Linked DNA regions of Homo sapiens. The protein of the gene in region 1 purifies or fractionates together with the protein of each later gene. This does not show direct contact. Each region holds a gene or a part of one and is shown on either strand. Other genes may lie near its edges.

Region 1 (5,586 bases):
ATCTAGTAATCTCACTTCTGGTATACATCCAAAGGAACTGAAATCAGTATGTAAAAGAGATATCTGCACTCCCATATTCATTGAAGCATTATTCACAATAGTCAAGACATAGAAACAACCTAAGTGTCCATTAATGAATGAATAAAGAAAATGTGGTATAGATACACAATGGAATACTGGAGGACATTACACTAAGTGAAATAAGCCAGGGACAGAAAGACAAATACTGCATTATCTCATATGTGGAATTCCTAGAATTCCATACAGTTCCATTCCTAAAAGTGGAGAGTAGAACGATGGTTACCAGAAGCTGGGGGTGGGGGACTTGGGGAGAGAGGGAATAGGGAGCTGTTGATCACAGAGTACAAAGTTTCTGATAGACAGAAGGAATAGGTTTTGAGATCTATTGCACAGGAAGGTGACTATGGTCAATAATAATGTATATTTCAAAATAACTGAGACTGAATTTCAAATAGCTCATCATAAAAAATTATAGGCAAGGCAATGTTAATTAGCCTGATTTAATCATTACATGTTGTATATATGTATCAAAACATCACGCTATACCGCATAAATGTATACAATTATAATTTGCCAATCAAAAATAATACTGATAATAAATTTTTAAAGCTAATGATGTAGAAGATAGAGCTGAAGAAATTATCCATAAAATAGGAGAGTGAGACAAAGAGAGAAATTATGAGAGATTAAGAAGCTTGGATGATCCACTTAAACTGCAGTGAAAATGCAGAAGCAGAAAATTTAAAAAGCTACAAGAGAAAATAGAGATGAACTACAAATATATAACAAACTGACAGGAAGCTTCAACAGCTATAATCGAAGTCAGAAGACAATAAAATACTAGTTTTGATGCATTTAGGAAAAATATCTGTCAGTGAAGAATTCTTTAAGTAATTCAATTCTTTAAGAAAAGTCAAGAGAGCAGAGCCGTAAGAACCAGAGGAAAACAAATTAAGCCTGAAATCAGTCCTATTCAGACTTCCAGTTATATGAACCAATAGACTTCCTTATTAAAAACTGATTTGGTTTGTTTACCTATTGGTAAAAACTTTGTAAGGACTTAAAGACCATGACATTTTAATTAAATAATCATATGTGTTTCACCCCATCAAACCCTATATGTTTTTATGAGTATGGGAAAAGGTGTGGAAGAGTTCACATCTAGGAGAATGACAACAGGCATTCAATAGAGTTACAAAGAGGTTTTTTTTTGTTTTTTTTTTGAGATGGAGTCTCACTCTGTCACCCAGGCTGGAGTGCAGCAGCACGATCTCGGCTCACTGCAATCTCTGCTTTCCGGGTTCAAGTGATTCTCCTGCCTCAGCCTCCCGAGTAGCTGGGACTACAGGCGCGCACCACTGCGCCCAGCTAATTTTTGTTTTTTGTTTTTTCTTTTTTTTTAAGAGATGGTGTTTCACCATGTTGGTCAGGCTGGTCTCCAACTCCTGACCTCGTGATCCACCCACTTTGGCCTCCCAAAATGCTGGGATTACAGGTGTGAGCCACCGCACCCAGCTTTTTTTGCTTTTACATCTTTGTATTGTTTGACTTACTCTAAGGAGGTTGTATATTACTTTTATAATTGGAAGTAAAAAAATTCATAAAGGAGACAGGTGTGGTGGCATGTGCCTGTAGTCCCAGCTACCCAGGAGGCTGGTTGAAGTGGGAGTATCACTTGTGCCCAAATTCAAATTCAGCCTAGGCAACATAGTGAGACCCCATATCTCTCTTTTTTTTAACTTTTATTTTAGGCTTGGGGATACATGTGAAGGTTACATAGGTAAACGTGTTAAAAACCACAATTATTTTTGCACCAACTTAGTATTTCATCACCCAGATATAAAGCCCAGTACCCAATAGTTAACTTTTCTGTGCCTCTCTGTCCTTCCACCCTCCCTCCTCAAGTAAATCCCAGTGTCTGTTGTTTCCGTCTTTGTGTTCATAAGTTCTTACCATTTAGCTCTCACTTCTAAGTGAGAACACGTGGTATTTAGTTTTCTGTTTCTGTGTTAGTTTGCTAAGGATAATAGCCTCCAGCTCAACCCATATTCCCACAAAAGACATGATCTCATTCTTTTTTATGGCTGCATAGTATTTCATGGTGTATATGTACCACATTTTCTTTATCCAAACTGTCATTGCTGGGCATTTAGTTGATTCCATGTCTTTGCTATTGTGAATAGTGTTGCACTGAACATTCGCATGCATGTGTCTTTATGGTAGAATGATTTATATTCCTCTGGGTGTGTACCCAGTAATGGGATTGCTGGAGACCCTATCTCTTAAAAAAAAAAAAAAAGTATATATACACACACACAGACTCACATAAAACCCAAATATATATATTAAATTATTAAATATATTATTCTCCCCAAAACCCAGCCATTTATATATATATATTTATATAATACTTAAAAGCCATTTATATATATATATATATATATATATAAATGGACCTCAAAGGTATCTTTCACTCTTCTTCCTTAGTATCTTGGCACATGTTGTGCCTTCTAATCCATTGTCTTGTTCCACTTACTCCCTTATGCCTATATATATATATATATACACACACACACACACACACACACATATATGGCTTTTGAGTTTTTGTTTTTTTATATACATATTTATATATACATATACATTTATATGTATATGAATATATTATATATTTTGTATATGTATAAAATGTGTGTATATATAATAGATATGTGTGTGTATGTATATAAAACAAAAAATAATAAATACTCAAAAGACATTTTTTCCCAAAGATCAATAAAGTAGTCCTATCTACTTTATACATGTAATATTAGGCATGTATACCTGTAGATAAAATGGAAATAGGAGATATTCCAAATGGCATCAGGTATATTATACAAGTAAATTTTAAAAATTAGATGAAATGGCCAGTTTACCAGAAAATATTGAAATTTGGCTCTATACAAAAATGAAAGACTAATAAAAATTTTTAAAAATTGATATAGCTATATTCTCCCAAAAACTCACCCAGATAGTTTTACATGTTTGGTAAACGTCTGGTTCACTCATTCAATAGATACTTTTTAGTGCCTATTATGCCCTTAAAAAAGTATTGTTGTTCTAGGCTCAGGGTTTATTTTCTAGCTAACATTTTTTGAGTGCTTATTTGGTGCTAGATACCATTCCTTTTACATGTATTAGCATATTTATTCTTCACAATAATATATAGTGGGGAGCAGGTGATTACTGTTAAAGTATAGAAACTGGTACAGAGAGGCTCAATACCTTGTGGCCAAAACGATCTTTTAAAAAACACAGATCGAGTTAACCTGCTTATAACTATTCAGTGGCGTATTACTGGTCTCTGCAAAAGACCCATATCCTTAACAAGGACCTAAAAGCCCACAATGATTTGGTTGCTGTTGCTACTGACTTCTCTAAAGTAGACTTGTACCACTTTTCTCTCTCTGTATCCTATCTTTCAGGACCTCAAAGGTATCTTTCTCTCTTCTTCCTTAGTATCTTGGCACGTTGTTGTTCTTTTTTACCCATTGTCTCGTACCACTCATTCCATTATGCCTAGTGAAAGTCTGATAATTCTGTAGATCTTAACTCTACTTCTGGATGTCTTTCAATTTCCAGATAAAATGAAGTCCTCCTACTGAGCCCACTCATAGTCTTATGAACTTACCTTCATTACCCCTAGTAAATATTTTGACATGTATTTGTGTAATAATTTGATTAATTAATACTTGATTGTATGAGGGCACAGACTATACACACACACACACACACAAACATATATATATATATTTTTTTGAGGCAGGGTCTCGCTCTTGTCACCGAGGCTGGAGTACAGTGGTGTGATCACAGCTCACCATAGCCTCAACCTCCTGGGCTCAAGTGATCCTCCCACCTCAGCCTCCCAAGTAGCTGGAACCACAAGTGTGTGCTACCATGCCTGGCTAACTTTATTTTTGGTAGAGATGGGGTCTTGCTATGTTGTCCAGGCTGGTGTGAAACGCCTGTGCTTGAGTGATCCTCCCACCTTGGCCTCCCAAACTGTTGGGATTACAGGTGTGAGCCACTGCACCTAGCTGATATTTTCACTCACCATTGTATCCCTAGCAACTTGGATAGTGCTGACACATATCAAGCACGCAAGAATGACTTAAATTTCTAAATGGATTATCTATTTTAGTCATAAGATACATGAATTGGCATTAAAGTTTTCAAGAACCTCTATCAATATAATGTGAGGCTAGTCAATTATCCAAAAAGTATTCTCCTAAAACCTAAAAAGTAAGAAATTAGTAAAATTTTCAATAAGTAACCAAGGACAAAACTAGATTGTTCTATAAAATTTTAAAAACTAACTTTAAGACAAAAATTAGTAGGATGTAGTTACTGGGAAATTAAACAAGTTGGGAAATACAAACAGGGTGGAAGATGATAGTTACCCTACACATCTCACCAACACTGTCTAGGATTACAGACAAATGATTTTACCTCTTTCCTTAATCAAAACAAATTGTTTAGGGAGAATGTTTTAAAGGAATAGTCCCAGCCGGGCGCGGTGGCTCACACCTATAATCCCAGCACTTTGGAGGCTGAGGCTGGCAGATCACTTGAGATCAGGAGTTTGGGACCAGTCTGGCCAACATAGTGAAACCCCGTCTCTACTAAAAATACAAAAATTAGCTGGGTGTGGTGGCACATGCCTGTAATCCAGCTACTCGGGAAGCTGAGGCGGGAGAATCACTTGAACTCGGGAGATGAAGGTTGCTGTGGGCCAAGGTCGCGCCACTGCACTCCAGCCTGGGTAACAGAGTGACAGAGGGAGACTCTGTCTCAAAAAAAAAAAAAAAAAAAAAAAAAAAGGAACAGTCCCTTTAAGAGTGACTAAAGATGTAAAGAATAAAGCTAAACCAAGCCAGCTACATAACTATAGAGGTATAAATGTAAAATTAACATTCATTGATTATTTACTATGTGTCAGGGATGATCTATGAGCATTTTTTAATAGACTACTTTACACTGAATATGAGCATTTATTAACTCATGCTTTTTCAAATCAACTCTATGATGTAGTTACAATTATTATCTCTATTTTACAAGTGAGAAGATCACATAAGTTTTAAGTAGGCAGAGTCAAGATTTGAACCCAGGCTAAGGTTAAGAGCTGGTGCTCTTAACTATAAGAGGACAGTAGTTAAAATAGATATCTTCCCTAATATGTGTGTAAATACTGAAGATTTTTTTATTAATACAAATTGTTTTCTTATCTAGACTATTTCACTAGCCCTCTAGTTAGTTTCCTTGACTCTAATTTTGCTCTCCTTAAATCCATTTTCCACACTGCATCCAGTGATCTGCTTAAATCTTAAATGGACTTGTACAAAATTAAGGAAAACCTACTCAGCACGGCAAACAAGGCTATGATTCATGCTTAATGACCCCAGCCTTCTGGCCTCTCCGATGTCCTTTTCTGCTACTCCCACCCTAGACTTTATATGTCTTAAAGTCTAATACAAACTCAGTACTTGTAGTGTCCACTACACACTAACCATCCCCACTTACACTATG
Region 2 (2,825 bases), on another chromosome or scaffold:
ATGGAGTCTCACCCTGTCACCCAGGCTGGAATGCAGTGGCACAATCTCGGTTCACTGCAGCCTCTACCTCTCAGGTTCAAGCAATTCTCCTGCCTCACCCTCCTGAGTAGTGGGGATTACAGGTGTGCCACCACCATGCCCGTCTCTAATTTTTATATTTTTAGTAGAGACGGGGTTTCACCATGTTGGCCAGGCTGGTCTTGAACTCCTGACCTCAAGTGATCCACCCACCTTGGCCCCCCACAAAGTGCTGGGATTACAGGCGTGAGCCACTGTGCCTGGTCTATCTTTAAATTCCTATCTGAATTTGTTTAGGTTTTTTAAATAAAAATCTTTCTTTTTTTTTAGAGACAGGGGTTCACCATGGTGCCCAGGCTGATCTCGAACTCCTCCTGGACTCAAGCTATCCTCCCACCTCAGCCTCCCAAAGTACTGGGATTACAGACATGAGCCACATGCTTGACCTGAATTTTAACTGCAGTTAATTATCACTTAACCAGCGAATTCACACAGGAGAAATCCCCTGGCCGGGCGCGGTGGCTCACACCTGTAATCCCAGCTCTTCGGGAGGCCGAGGTGGGTAGATCACAAGGTCAAGAGATCAAGACCATTCTGGCCAACATGGTGAAACTCCGTCTGTACCAAAAATACAAAAATTACCTGGGCATGGTGGTACGTGCCTGTAATCCCAGCTACTTGGCAGGCTGAGGCAGGAGCATTGCTTGAACCCATGAGGTGGAGGTTGCAGTGAGCCGAGATCACGCCACTGCACTCAAGCCTGGGTGACAGAGCAAGACTCCATCTCTACTACAAAAAAAAAAAAAAAAAAAATTCAACCACCTTAGGAAGCCTCTCATTTATGTATTTCTAGCATGTAATTAGTGTTGCACATGGGAAGGGCTAATAGATGCTGACAGAGTGAACAACTTATCTATTTTGTGTGTGTGTGTGTAACAGGGTCTCATTCTGTTGCCCAGGCTGGAATACAGTGGCATGATCACAGCTCACTGCAAACTTCAACTGCCAGGCTCAGGCAACCCTCCCACCTCAGCCTCTTGAATAGCTGGGACTGCAGGCTCATACCACCACAACCAGCTAACTTGTATTTTTAGTAGAGACAAGGTTTCGCCATGTTGCTCAGGCTAGTCTCGAACTCCTGGACTCAAGTGATCCACCTGTCTTGGCTGCCTACATTGCTGGGATTACAGGCATGAGCCACCATGCCCAGCCAAATTTTTTTTTTTTTTTAAGGGAAGGGATCTTGCTATGTTGCCCAGGCTGGTCTCAAACTCCTCAGCTCAAGCAATCTGCCCACCTCAGCCTCTGAAAGTGCTGGGATTACAGGCATGAGCCACCATGTCCAGCACACTTTAATATTCACTATGGGCCCTCAAAAGGAAATGTTTGTGGGGCCACCAAAAGCAAATGTCTCTTGAACCTAGTCACCTGGGGGGACAAGTGTGGGAAAGTGCACCTGTGTTCCCATGAGACCCACTCAAGAGGAGCAGAAATCCTGTTTTGCTATTTCCTTAATTGCTACTAGGGCTGGGATTTTTTCATGTTTATTGGCCCCTCTACATTTTTTTCTTTAAAAAAATTCACAAAGCATGTTTATATTTGTTAGCTCTTTTGATTCTCCCTATGATAGTGTGAAGACAGGGACAAAACGCTACCATTTCACACTCCCAGATCTAACAATAGCTACCAAGTAATTATGCCATGCGTTTCTTCTAACCTTCGCAATATCACTACGAGGTAGTTCTTACTATCCTCATTTTACAGATAAGGAAACTGAGGCTAAGTGACGCTGGCAGACTTGCCCAAGGCCACACAGCTGGTAACAGGGACTGGTAGTCACTTGAGTCCTACATGAGCACCCTTGCTACTACAGCAGCTCCTCCCCTTTCTAGAGGCCTAGATGGAAAGATGCTGGTGTCAGCGGGGGGCACAAAGGTCCACCCAGTCCCACACATGCAGAGAGGCATCATTTGTTGCTGATAACAAAGTCCTTGGTCTGCAGGGATGCCAGGTGTGGGTGGTGACCAAAGGAGCAGGGTCCATCCCATTTCCATCTAGGAAGATGTGACCTCTGTGAGTGAAGAGAGGTTCTACTTGGCTCCGTGTTCCATCTTGGCTCCGTGTTCCATCCCAAGATGTGGCATCATAGACCTGGACTGTACCATCAAAACCTGAGAATACAGAAAAGAGAGGCTTGACAATGAGTCCCTAATTTTATTTTAAAATAATTTTCTTTCTATTTTTAATAGAGATGGGGTTTCACCATGTTGACCAGGATGGTCTTGAACTCCTAGCCTCAAGCGATCCTCCCATCTCAGCCTCCCAAAATGCTGGGATTACAGGCACCCAGCCCCTAAAATACTTTTTATAATTTGTTCTATGGTACCAAAACAGGCTATTGGATGAGGAATCAAGGCACTTAAAAGGCTAACCACGGGCAAGTAGCATCTGCCCTCAGTGTTGGCAGCTGATGACTCCGTGGGGCATGTAACCATGAGCATCCGTTGTGCACCTGTTATGCGTGAGGCTCGAAGGCTAATTCTGGACAAGTATTAGCTCTTTTAATCCTCAGAACTGTATGACACAGATACTGTTATTTTACCCAGGAAACTGAGGCTTAAGAGACTTCTTCAAACCTTTTCAAGTTGCCCCAGAGTCCAGTCCCCTACCTCTGGGTCCCTTTCAGCAGATGGCCTTGTCTCCTACTCGATGGGGGAAACAGAAGCCTTTGGAGAGAAATACCTTCACGTCCCTGCACGATCTAGCTGCACACACACTCATTCCATCCTGCCATCTTCCTGGTACTG
Region 3 (3,576 bases), about 74 Mb from region 1:
TGCTAGAAGTTTTATATAATTTAATTTTAATTATCACAACAACCCTATAAGGTAGGTTAGCTTTCCATTATTAAAGCAACAACAACAACAAAAAAAGACAAAATCCTAAGCTGGCATCAAATCCAGGTCAGTTTGAGCCTCACCATCCCCCCTACACGCTGCCTCCTGGTGAGGCAAGGGCATGGAAGGAGTGATGATACAGGGTCTCAGCTGAATGCAAGGGCCCTACTCCTTATTCAGCACCACTTTCTGTAGGGTTCCACATGCTGAAGGAGAATAGAGGAAGCGGCATGTTCTTCTGAGTTCTTCCTTGTTCCTTGGCCTGTAAAGAACTCTAGTCATCCAAAACACTTTCTTTCATTTTCAGAAAGCCAAAAACTATCTTGAAGACTGAGACTTTAAGCATGCATATGCTGTAGCTACATCCTGTGTGGCTCCTGAGAGCACAGCAGCAGCCCCTAGTCCCAGATGGGCTCTGATGTGCCATCAGTTTCTGCTCTGTCACTGGGGCACATCCTCTGTTCTCACGTGCTTTGCTGGAGTCCTCTTCATTCGCTCCTTTCCCACTAGATCTTAGGATTTCATTACGAAAAACTAACTGCCATTCTTTCTCACTTTTCTTGCACTATTTCCCTGAGTTCTATGAACTCTGTGCCTCAATATCCAATGCCCCATAATAGACACCATGTATGTTCACCTAAATCAGGAGTTACAGTTTGATCTACCTTAACCAGAAAAGAATGTTTCCCTGAATTCAGGCACTTCAAATAACCAAGTCATATTAAGGCAGTGACATTATTTCTTATTCTTTTAACCAGTAAGATATCATGGGCTTGGACAAGTCATTTATTTCCTCTGAGCCTTGGTCTTCTTAAGTGTAGGTAGGCAATACCAGCCTTACTTACTTGGCAAGATCAAATGGGATAATGTCTATGAAAGCCATTTAACACATAGAAAAGCATCATAGCATGTAAATAAGTGAGAAAAACATCGGGAGAAAGAAGGCATAAGAGTAAAAATAGTTGGAAGGGGTGAACAGGTAAGTCCCAGAACAAAAATTTGGGACTAGAAGGGACATTCTAGGACCAGATTGGCTGGAGTAAGATTCATCCCATCTCGTCCAAAGTACTTGCCTCACTTTACCAGTTCCCAATATGACCACATTTAATTGTTCAGAGTAGAACCTGTCCTGTCCAGCAACAGCTCCATTTGTTCTTCTGAAAATTTGAGGAAGAGCTCTTCCTTTCTACCTGTTTTTCATTCCAATCATTAATGGTTTGAGAAAGTCTGAAAAAAAATAAATAACTGGGTCTCCCTTGATGGCTCTTCCTGGGTAAATCATAAAAGGAATCATGTACCTGTCACTCTTTAGCTTTCATTTACAACTCATCAAATTTTAATGGGGAAAATTTCAGAACCCTAGAATCTTAGAGCTGAAGTTAACTTTAAAAATCACCTTGCTCAATATTTAAGACCAAGATCCAAACCCATGGTTATACAGTGATTTATGGAGGAGGTGGGACTAGAACCTAATCCTCAGCTCCCAGGTCAGGGCTCTTTCTACTTACGGTGTCCTGGTACTAATACTAACACTGAACTAAGCACTAGGTACTTGCACCGTAGTGCGAGTAGTGCAAGACTACTCATACTGATACTCAATTCTATATAAACTAGCCACCCAGAATACTCCTATGTCTAAAGTGTAAACAGTGATGAGGATATTCAAATAACTTCCCTCTCCTAGTCCAGAGAGAAGCATCCAGGCTGGGGGACAATGCCGAGCTGGGAGAGCTGTGCTAAAGTGACGAAAGAAGATGGACGAGGTACGTTCCACAGAGAAAAGTAGAACAGAGGAGGAAGAGAAATTGGAAGATATACAGGACAGGAAAAGAGATAACGGAAGTTGAGGTGTCAGCAGTCTCTAAAAGCGATTCTTCTTTCTCCAGGGCTAATAACATTTTAACTCTTTACACCCAAGCCTATCCTTCAGTCACCAGGTGTCTACCTGAACATGAAACCAGACCAACTAATGATCATTCCCTATACCTCCCTTCCCACTGCAGGCTGGGTTGGGGGCCCCTTCAAGGCACTCCAGAGTACAGATCTTTATCACTGCTTTTGCACAATGCTACTCCATAACTGGTGTCTCCACCACCAGACTGAGTACCTTAAAAGCAAGGACTATGACTTATTCATCTTTTCAACCCCAGCATAACTTCTGGGACATAGGAGTAAGTCACTCACTGACTATTCATGAACAAATATCTTAACTCAGCTATCACGTTTTCTGGGAATTTGTTTCAGAGCTGCTGCACCAGTCCTGGTTTGGGTTGAGTGTGCTTCCTCTATGCTCTCACAGCAGGGGTGTGGCTCTCATCAAAGGACCTTTAACTACCATGACAAAGTGACTGGAAAACTTGGTTTTTGGTTTTTGTTTTGAGACAAGGTCTCACTCTGTCACCCAGGCTGGAGTACAGTGGCACAATCTCAGCTCACTGCAGCCTCTACTTCCCTGACTCAAGCAATCCTCCCACTCAGGCCCTTGGGTAGCTGGGACTACAGGTGCAAGCCATCGTGCCCGGCTAATTTTTTTGTATTTTTTGTAGAGATGAGGTTTCACTGTGTTGTCCAGGTTGGTCTCAAACTCCTGGGCTCAAAGAGATCCACCTGCCTCAGCTTCCCAAAGTGCTGGGATTACAGGCATGAACAACTGTGCATAGCTGAAAACTTATTTGAATCACTGACTAGACTGACAACGCTTTGAGGGCAAGGACTATGTCTTTTAGTGCCTCATTCTCAGCACTTAGTATAATACTTAGAAATCACAGGAATTTAATATGTGCTTGTAGAATAGACAAACAAGTGAAATCAAAAGAAATGCTAATAAAGGGCCGGGCATGGTGGCTCACATCTGTAATCCCAGCACTTTGGAAGGCCAAGGAGGGCATATCACCTGGGGTTGGGAGTTTGAGACCCACGTAGCCAACATGGTGAAACCCCAACTCTACTAAAAATACAAAAATTAGCCAGGTGTGGTGGCGCGTGCCTATAATCCCAGCTACTTGGGAGGCTGAGGCACAAGAATTGCTTGAACCCAGGAGGCAGAGGTTGCAGTGAGCCGAGATGGTGCCAATGCACTCTGGCCTGGGTGACAGAGTGAGACTCTGTCTCTCAAAAAAAAAAAAGAAAAGAAAAAGAAATGCTAATTCATCAAGCAATCTTTGTCATAGAGATACCCAAAGAAGCCTCCAGGAAAACACATCGCTTGCTCCAGGAGTGTGTTCCCAGAGTGTCGACACAGCTCCAGCGTTTCTCACAGCCTCTGCTGCCAGGAAAGGATAAAACACCACCCATATTCAGGAACAAAGACAGAGTGAACCCTCCTTCAAGTCTTATTGCTAGATGGCACCTGTTGCTAAAATAGCAGCTGGTAAGCATTTTGTTTTGTTCAAAATAACAACAACAACAGCAACAATAACAAAACCAATATATTACAGGAAGCAACATCACAATGGCAATAAGGAATCACAAGGCTAAATATATAACAGGAAGACATACAGAATTTTAGTAATGAAA
Region 4 (3,576 bases), on another chromosome or scaffold:
ATGTTCTTGACATGAAGTAAAAATATCCCAAATTATTTTAAATACATTTGCCATATGCATTTTTGCATTTTTATTTTAGTAATAAATATGGTCTCTTAATTAGATAATTCTAACCAGATTGTGAGAAATTTAAAGGATAGTTCATTCTTACATTCTTTAGTTAGAGAATAGAACAGAAAGATGAGCCAGGTTTGCTTTTTTAATTTCTAAATGATTCTTCAATCTTGAATAAATGAACGCAAATGTGAGAAAATGTTCTTTCTATACGTCTAGGAGATGTTGTTATTAAAAACTGGATTTCTGGGCTGGATATGGTAGCTCACACCTGTAATCCCAGCACTTTGGGAGGCTGAGGCGGGCAGATCATTTGCGGTCAGGAGTTTGAGACCAGCCTGGCCAACGGGGAAACCCCTTCTCTACTAAAAATACCAAACAAAACAAAACAAAAAAAATTTTGCTGGGCATGGCGGTGCACACGTGTAATCCCAGCTGCTCAGGAGGCTGAAACAGGAGAATCGCTTGAACCAAGGAGGCCGAGGTTGCAGTGAGCCAAGATTGTGCCACTGCACTTCAGCCTTGGTGACAGAGTGAGACTGTGTCTCAAAAACAAACAAACAAAAACCCCTGGATTTTCTGATATCTGTATCTAAATGTTTAAGAGTTTTGGCTTTATTAGTTTGGCATTGAAGATCTCATCAGTAGCAAGGCACAGTGGCACGTGTCTGTAGTCCCAGCTACTCAGGAGTCCAAGGCTGAAGGATTGCTTGAGCCTAGGAATTCAGAGCCAGCCTGGGCAACATGGTGGTGAGACCCTGTCTTTAAACAGACAAAAAAAAAAAGATTTCATCAGTAAACATTCATGACTACTGAATTTGGCCGGAGCCAAATATTTTATTATTTTGATGCTAGAGTAAGATTATTCTTTTATGCTCAAACCTTAATTCAGCAGTTAAAGATTAAATCTTGATACTGAGATACTTGGTATCATACGTAGTATTTGAATATTGTCTTTTTTGGCATGTGTCCTTATAGATATTTATATTTTTTATTATTATTATTTTTTTTTGAAATAGGGTCTCACTCTGTTGCCTAAGCTGGGGTGCAGTGGCGCAGCCATGGCTCACTGCAGCCCCGACCTCCCAGGCTCAAGCAATCCTCCCCGCTGAGCCTCCCAAGTAGCTGGAACTACAGGCACATGCCACCATACCTCGCTAATTTTTGTATTTTTTGTAGAGATGGAGTTTTGCCGTGTTACCTAAGCTGGTCTTGAACTCCTGGGGTCAAGCCGTCTACCCGGCCAAGGCCTCCCAAAGTGTTGGAATTACAGGTGTGAGCCAACATTCCTGGCCAAAATAAATATTTGTAAAATGTCATTTTTTTCATTCATACATTCTGTTTTCTGATCTATAATATCTTTGCTTTATTTGCAAATAGAAAATCAATTTGATTTGACTTTTAAAAATTTGTTAAAATGTTTTATTCCTCCCCTCCTTATTTAATAATTAGTAAGATATCAAGAATTGACTGTGTATGTGTTTTTGCTTATTTTGGGGACATTTGCTCGGTGTGAAAGATGGGGGAGCTTTGAATATAATAACTTGTACTCCCTTCAGTGATTGTGTCCCTAACCAATTCCTCATTCAGCCTCCCTAGTAGACTCAGGATCACGAGCCCAGCACTAGAAGTTGAGTGTTACTAGGAAGTCAGAGAATCATCTTTGTGTTTTCTATTATGGCATGGAATTGAACTAGAAAATATTGACTCTGAATAGAAATTCATCCCAAATGTGTTTAACAACTCTTTGGGTACAACCCAAGATAGTGTGTTCCATTTAGATACATGTTTTCCCTTCATGTCTTCCCAACCTCCCTTCCTTGGGTGAACAAATTTAGAAGTTGTTATTTTTGTTTGGCATGTTCTTTGAGCATGCTTAGATATTTTGAAATAATCACTGCTTCAAAGAAAGCTTATTTAAATGAAGTATGTCTTATCTTTATCATTCCAAATTCAGGAAGAAATTAAAGGCACTATTCTTTGGACTGTCTGAGGGGAGTGTAATAGCAGTTATTTATTACTGTCCCTCTTAATAAGCTTCTTGTCTTTTACTCAGCCTCCTCAGGGCTGGCAGTAGGACCGTTACCATCTAAGTATGCATCCAGCTTCTAGCCAAGTTGGATGAAATTAACAGGAAGTAGGGTAGAGTATGATCATTCTTTCATAAGATGATTAGGACTTGAAAGAGATACAGAAATACCTAGATTAGCATTTGCAAAAATGTGATTATGTATATCAGTATCACTTGTGGCGTGAGAGTTGGTTTCATGTGGCAGATGAATCAATTTTTATTTTAGAAGTTTTGTAGTATGTGTTAAAAACATGTTTAAAAACTTTTTTAAAAACATAAGATAACATCAGATCATTCTTCCTACAGTTTTATTACTTAAGACAGTGTTAACTAAAAAATGAGTAGATTGTGTAAAAATACAGATGGTAATATAACTGAAATGGCAAGCATTGTGATCATTAGTATGTGAATAATTTCATTTTAGGAAATGTTGATCTAGTTCAATACCAGAATTTTATTCAGAAAAAGAAACTGGGGCCCAAAAAGGGAAAGTAATTTAGCCAGGGTGTCTTAGTGAGTCACTCACTGGTAGAGTTTGGACTAGTTCCTAGGTCTCCTGGGTCCCAGTCCAATATTTTCACTGTGCCTTGATGCTTCTCAGTAATATTAGCAAAAGTGGAACATTAGGTAAAATAGGGATGCATTATTATGGAACATACAAGAGTGCAGATTATTTTGGGAGACTTGTACCTCCTGTAGATTTGGTGGGCTCATGGAAGGACAGTACAGATAAAGTAGCTGGGATGCTGAATTAGAAACAGATATGCAAAATGCAAGTACATTTTATATTTTATGCCTACCTTCAATTCAGTTTCTTAATTTATAATAGATTGCCAGAAGGGCAAATGCAGGCACAGTTGGAAATAGTAGACTGACCTGAACTGACATCAAATTCTGTAAGTCTCTATACTTTAGAGCTGGAGTTGAAGGAATATTGTGGAGGTCATTAACATAGAATTTTATTGATGTGTAATATATTTATAAGGACCATCTCTGAATTAACACAATTTTCTTTTTCAGAGTCCTTATAGGACAGTTCTTCGAGATAATGCAATACCAACAATATTTGATCTTACCAGTCATTTGAACAACCCACATAGTAGACACAGAAAACGAATAAAAGAACTGGTATGTCTATGTACTTTCAGCTTTCCCACCTTCCCCCATAATACTATGAAATCAAATACAGATGCATTTATGTTAAAATTAATCCAAATTACTCTCTATTTCAGAGGTAATGTAACGGGAAATAAATGTTATGGTTGTTAAATAGCCTAGATGTGAGATGATGAGTTTTAGTATTTAAATTGGAAAATCTCCCTCAGAGTTAGCCAGTTGATACTTGTTGACTTGGTCCAGAGTGTGCTGTTAATTACAGGCCACTAGCTCATTCCCTTCTGGAGAAGAAGGAAAAAGCTACCTTTTCTTTCATAGTAAGGAAAATAGAGCTG

The links. Proteins that work in one complex are often made in the same cells at the same time.
Region 2: the proteins of TMED5 (region 1) and WDR73 purify together in Homo sapiens (co-immunoprecipitation; one large-scale study listed by IntAct). This does not show direct contact.
Region 3: the proteins of TMED5 (region 1) and ILDR2 purify together in Homo sapiens (co-immunoprecipitation; one large-scale study listed by IntAct). This does not show direct contact.
Region 4: the proteins of TMED5 (region 1) and THAP12 purify together in Homo sapiens (affinity purification with mass spectrometry; one large-scale study listed by BioGRID and IntAct). This does not show direct contact.

The regions. Positions count from the first base shown.
Region 1 is NC_000001.11:93,172,732-93,178,317, forward strand, and holds part of TMED5 (transmembrane emp24 domain-containing protein 5 isoform 1 precursor), read right to left. Parts: intron 1-5,586. UniProt on the Homo sapiens protein: Potential role in vesicular protein trafficking, mainly in the early secretory pathway. Required for the maintenance of the Golgi apparatus; involved in protein exchange between Golgi stacks during assembly.
Region 2 is NC_000015.10:84,641,535-84,644,359, forward strand, and holds part of WDR73 (integrator complex assembly factor WDR73), read right to left. Parts: intron 2,190-2,825; coding exon 1,936-2,189; 3' UTR 1-1,935. UniProt on the Homo sapiens protein: Component of a multiprotein complex required for the assembly of the RNA endonuclease module of the integrator complex. Associates with INTS9 and INTS11 in the cytoplasm, stabilizing the INTS9-INTS11 heterodimer and blocking the active site of INTS11.
Region 3 is NC_000001.11:166,969,041-166,972,616, forward strand, and holds part of ILDR2 (immunoglobulin-like domain-containing receptor 2 isoform 1 precursor), read right to left. Parts: exon of another isoform or gene 3,231-3,576; intron 1,824-3,230; exon of another isoform or gene 1,745-1,823; intron 1-1,744. UniProt on the Homo sapiens protein: May be involved in ER stress pathways with effects on lipid homeostasis and insulin secretion. With ILDR1 and LSR, involved in the maintain of the epithelial barrier function through the recruitment of MARVELD2/tricellulin to tricellular tight junctions.
Region 4 is NC_000011.10:76,360,633-76,364,208, reverse strand, and holds part of THAP12 (52 kDa repressor of the inhibitor of the protein kinase), read left to right. Parts: intron 1-3,145; coding exon 3,146-3,253; intron 3,254-3,576. UniProt on the Homo sapiens protein: Upstream regulator of interferon-induced serine/threonine protein kinase R (PKR). May block the PKR-inhibitory function of DNAJC3, resulting in restoration of kinase activity and suppression of cell growth.